2 separate regions of the Homo sapiens genome follow, and region 2 is linked to region 1. A link means that fine-mapping ties the variant in region 1 to the expression of a gene that starts in the linked region. Tissue or cell type: whole blood. Region 1 holds a variant in brackets; the other region holds the start of a gene. All regions are shown on one strand. Distances are from middle to middle.

Region 1 (2,680 bases):
TCGAACTCTTGGGCTCAAGCAGTCCTCCTGCCTGAACTCCAGCAGGAGGTGGTTCGAGTAGCTGGAACCACTGTTCCTGGTGCTCATCGTGGTTTTGTTTTGCATTTTTCTATTGATGCGATTCTCCTGCTTCAGCCTCCTGAGTAGCTGGGATTACAGGTGCCTGCCACCATGTCCGGCTAATTTTTGTATTTTTAGTAGATATGGGGTTTCGCCATGTTGCGCAGGCTGGTCTTAAACTCCTGACCCCAAGTGATCCACCTGCCTTGGCCTCCCAAAGTGCTGGGATTACAGGCGTGAGCCACCGTGTCCAGCCTGTATATCTTCTTTGGAGAAATAACTATTCACATTCTTTGCCCATTTAAGAAATTGGGTTATTTCTTGTTATTATTGAGTTTTAAGAGTTCTTCGTGTATTCTGGATGCAAGTCTCATCGGATACATGATTTGCAGAAATTTTTACCCTTTTTGTGGATTTGTTTTCCTTTTTTTAACTTTTTTTCCCAAGTCATGTGTAGGAAGACAGTGTTTTGATTTTTTTATGGTGTCATTGAAGCAAAGAAGTTTCCAATTTTGATTATGTCCAATTTACCTACTTTTTCTTTTGTTTATTGTGCATTGGTATTACATCTAAGGCAGCTTTGCCTAACCCAAGGTCCTGAATGTATTCTCTGTATTTAATGCAGTTGGCAATTGGTTAAGCAACTGATTTTTCTCATTTGAGAATGTAGATTCTCCTCCATTGGTATAAATGTGAATATGAGTTTGACTTTTTTATTAGAAAGCAGCTATAGTGAGTTTGACCTTGTGGTTAGAAAGCTATAAGCTTTTGGCTGGTCCGATGGTAGTGGGTTATCAGAACTCATTAACATTAGTGTCACTGAAGTTGATATACAACCCCCAACTGCTAAATTTGACTGGCTTAAAAAAAAAAAAAGAAAGCTATAAGCTTTAGTTTTGGTCTAATAAAAGCAGTTTTCAATAACTTAAATTTTACTTAGTAGAGGGAGGTTCAAGTAAAAATTAAGGACAGGTTTCATTGGTGAATTTTTTTTCACGACTTTTTTAGATATTTGTTTAACTTTCAGTTCATCGTATCTCTAATAACACTGTTTTTTTTGAAATCTAAACTGACTTGTTTGGAGGGAAATATCAAACTGTTAAGATGGTATGTGTCATAAGGTAATTAAAAGACATCATAAATTCCAGATATACTGAGGAACTAGTTAACTGGTTAGGCTTTTAGGTCTGTGTAGATAGTAGAACTAGAACCTGAGAACCATAGTTCTGAAATCAAGAGGCTCATAAAAGCTTAAGCTTATCATTTTATCTTGCTATTGACAGATTTGAAATATTCAGGGCCAACCAGCTCTTTAGGATTGTTCCTTTGGGAATGATTGTCTTTTCCTATTTTGTTAAATGCTTTTAAATTCATTTTTTTTTTTTTTTTTTTTTTTTTTTTGCGACGGTGTCTCGCCCTGTTGCCTAGGCTGGAGTGCAGTGGCACGATCTTGGCTCACTGCAACCTCTGTTTCCCAGGTTCAAGCGATCCTCCTGCCTCAGCCCCCCTGGTAGCTGGGATTACAGGCATGTGCCACCATGCCCGGCTAAATTTTGTATTTTCAGTAGAGACAGGGTTTCACCATGTTGGCCAGGCTGGTCTTGAACTCCTGATCTCAGGTGATCCACCTGCCT[C/T]GGCCTCCCAGAGTGCTGGGATTACAGACATGAGCCACCACGCCCGGCTTAAATTCATTTGTTAAGCAAGGTTTAAGAAAGGAATTTTGGAAATTTCCTACCTGCTTTCTACATAATCTTTTGAGATGGGGTCTCACTCTGTCACCAGGTTGAAGTGCAGTGGTGTCATCTTGGCTTACTGGAACCTCGACTTCCTGGGCTCAAGCAGTCCTCCTGCTTCAGCCCCCTGAGTAGCTGGGACCCACAGTTGTGTACCACCATGCCCGGCTAAGTTTTTGTGTTTTTGGTAGAGACAGGGTTTTGCCATGTTGCCCAGACTGGTCTCGAACTTCTGAGCTCGGGTGATCCACCTTCCTCAGCCTCCCGAAGTGTTGGGATTACAGGCTTGAACCACCGTGCCTGGCCTGTTGGCTTGTGATCTTGAAATTATGAAATTATTTTGCCTCTAGAGATCATCAAATCTAGACCCTTTAATTTGAAGATAAACAACACTGGAGAGATTAAATTTGTTCATAATTACAGAGTGGCAGAATTCAGGTCACCTGAATACCAGTTTAGTGTTCCCACTTTTACAAAAAAAGCCACTAAAACATTTCATAATATAGCTTGGAGGGGTTTTTTGGCTTAATATCTTTTTTTGTGTGTGACGTAGTCTTGTTCTGTCACCCAGGGTGGAGTGCAGTGGTGTGATCTTGGCTGACTGCAACCTCTGCCTCCTGGGTTCAAGTGATTCTCCTGCCTCAGCCTCCTAAGTAGCTGGGATTACAGGTGTGCGCCACCACGCCCAGCTAATTTTTGTATTTTTAGTAGAGACGGGGTTTCACCATGTTGGCCAGGCTGGTATCGAACTTCTGACCTCATGATCTGCCTACCTCAGCCTCCCAAAGTTCTGGGATTACAGACACGAGCCACTGCGCCTGGCCTGGTTTAATGTCTTTGAGAGAGAGCTAACATTTATCAGTTATATTTTGTAGCTAAAAGGTATA
Region 2 (2,680 bases), 87 kb before region 1:
TTGCTCTAGAACATGGCTCGCCTTTGCTTCAGGGCCTAGCAGTTTATTTTAGCCATAAGGGTAAGGGAGCAGGTCAGAAATGACTTTTAGTGTAATCCTATCTGTAATTAAAAATACAAATGCTGTCATAAGATCAAATGTTATCAAAAATCAGTATTTAAAATTAAATTTACCCCCAAATTTCTTTCAAAAAAAATTTGTAATGTTCTTTTTCAGTGAAGCCTTTGCACTGCTAGAGCTGAAGAATGTGATCAATCGGCTTGTTGAATAATCCTGCACAGTAGGTATTCCGCTGAAGCCAACTCTAGCTGGGGGCTCGAGAGCGAAAGACACAGATGGGGCCCTGCCGCCCCTCGAAGAGTCGGATGGGCGCGCCCGTCCCCGGTGCATCAAGAGGCTGGCCCGGCCAGGGGCGAGCGGCTGGCACCGAACCCCGCGCACTTCGCCGCGGGCGGGGCTGGGCCGTAGTCGGCTCGATTTAAGGCTGGTATCCAAGGCTGCGGCCGGTCAGGCGAGGCGAGGCGAGGCGACGTGAGCGAGGGTGCTTAGGGAGAACAGCCGCTGGCAGCTCAATGCTGGGTGGCTAACGCTCGACGGTGCCTGGCAGCAACCCGGCCGACAACCCGACGCGGATCCCGAGCTGCGTCGCGGACAATGCTGCGGGCCCGTCCCGGACTACGACTCCCGACGGGCTCTGCGACCGCTCCGGGGCGGCCCAGCGTGCACTGCGCCGGCCAGTTTTGACAGCCGGGCGCCCTACTCGGCTAGCTCTGCTCCCAGCCAGGGACGCTGGCCTTCTCGCGGCTTTCCCCCGATGTCTCTCTTTATTCCAGCTGCCTGAAACTCGGTCCCACGAATGGCAGGCAGCGTCCAAAATTCAACCCCGTAAAGCCAGCACCAGCCAATAAAGCGCACGGATGGAGGCCACGTGACAGCAGTGGGCCGGCCCTCCGGCTGAGCCCTGATCTCTATGGTTTCCGCGGCTCGCTAGAAGGAGTGTGGTCCACTGGAGGACTCCCTACATTCTTCCTCCATTACCTCACTGCCTCCGGTGGCTGCTGGGATACCGGAGGACTCGGGTCCCGGCTCGACTCAGTCCTCCAGCCGCCCGGGGAATACCTCTAGTTCTTCCCGGCCGCCGCCGCCGCCGCCGCCCCGCCGCTTCCTCCTCCGCCCGCCGGCCTCCTTCGCCCCGCCCCGTCCGCGCAGCGCGTCCGGCCCGCCCGCAGGCCAGCTTCTCTCGGGAGCCCCCACCCAGGCGCATGGCTCCATGAAGCAAGAGGAGGAGGCAGAGCGCGAGAGGTCCCGTCCGCCCCAGCCGCGTCTGGGCCAGGAGAAAAGGTGGGAAACTCGGGCTGCGCCGCACCCTTCTCCCCGCTGCCGGGCCAGGCCTCCCTCGGTCCGCCGCCGCCTTGCCCGCCGGGCCTGTTCTCGCCGGGGCGGGCGGCGGGGCCGGGAAGAGACCCCGCGGTCCTGGGGCGAGGGTCCGGGGGCAGCGGGGGGGAGGAGTCCCGGGCGGCGGGCGGGGCCTCAGGCCATGTCCCAGCGGAGGGCAGGGGGTCGGGAGGCACTGCCGGGGAGGGGCGGGCGGCGCCGTGCCCCGGGCCGCGAGGCTCGGCTCCCGCTCCTGGTCCTTGTCTGCACTCCCTCCAGGAAGCAGGCTCGCTCGCTGTAAAGTTTGGTGGTCTCCGGCGCCGCCTGGTGGCCCCCACCCACCGTCCCGCCGCCCCGCCGCCCCCTCCCCCGCCCGGCGTCTGGATTCCACCCCCGCGGCTCGGCCCAAGCTGCTCTACCCGTCGCTCCATCGTCTCCCCAACTCCCCAGCGCCCCGGACCCTCTTTCCTCATACCCTCGTTTCTCACCTTTCACCCTGTCCCTCGGCCCGCTTTTCCCCTCCCCGCTCTGTCCTGTCGTTTTCTTAACACTCTTCACACGCGCACTTTCTCCTCCTCCTCTTCTCTTTTTCGCACCCCTACTCTTGGGCCCTCCTTCCTTAACCTCCGCTGGCCCCCCATTCCATGATCCGTCCACCTGACACGCTGGGTTTCATGCCTCTCTTTCCCAGGCTGTGGGTTGTGCCCTTCACTCCTTGCCCTCCTACATTCCCTGTCCTGATCTGAACTCCTCTCCTTGCCATGCTCCCTCACCCTTATCCCTCTGGGCCTTATCCTCTTTCACTGCCCTCTCCTAGGATAGAGTGGGTGGGGCCTCTCCCACCCACAGGAGATGTAAACAGTCTCCTGTTTACTTACATCTTTGGGAGTAGCTCAATTCTCTAGTAGTGGGGAGAGTTGGTGAAGAGATCAGGAAGAGATTTCTTCGAGACTAAGGATGGATGACCCTTAGCAACAGTGACCGTCTCCTCCCGGCATAGCAAGATGGCCTGCCCTCAGGTCCCTGCCTCTGGCGTGCTGTCCAGTAATTCTTCAGTTCTGTCTTTGCAGAGGATTGGGAAATTTATTTGTGTTCTGAAACCGGCGGAGAGCTTTTAAATGGTCTCTTCTGGCCTGAGAGCAACTTTTGCTCTGCATCTGTGGTGGGGAAGTTTTAATGTGCGTCTCATGCTCGAGTTCAATAAATAAAACCTTTGATTCTCAGTGTCCTCCCTTCTTGCTGATGACGCTAAGGATGAGATGATTCAGGGCATGGGACTTCACGGCTGCCTCAGATTTAGAGTTTG

Evidence for each region. PIP is the estimated chance that this variant, and not a neighbour inherited with it, causes the effect.
Region 2: it holds the start of AMMECR1L, and the variant in region 1 is fine-mapped to the expression of AMMECR1L in whole blood (TOPMed, PIP above 0.99).

What each region holds. Positions count from the first base shown.
Region 1 is chr2:127,797,149-127,799,828 of GRCh38, reverse strand. The region is part of intron 1 of WDR33 (WD repeat domain 33); the gene reads left to right. It also overlaps the pseudogene RNY4P7. Among named protein-coding and RNA genes, the nearest start is that of WDR33, 13 kb to the left of the region's middle. The variant C/T (reference allele first, on the strand shown) is at 1,695.
Region 2 is chr2:127,884,471-127,887,150 of GRCh38, reverse strand. It overlaps AMMECR1L (AMMECR1 like), which reads left to right and starts at 1,195. Exons shown (of 8, transcript NM_001199140.2): 1 at 1,195-1,341. It overlaps LOC107985944 (a long non-coding RNA gene), which reads right to left and starts at 33. Exons shown (of 2, transcript XR_001739707.2): 1 at 1-33. It also overlaps the pseudogene LOC107985803. RefSeq lists silencers at 315-364, 1,075-1,244, 1,255-1,304 and enhancers at 595-854, 865-944, 729-1,324.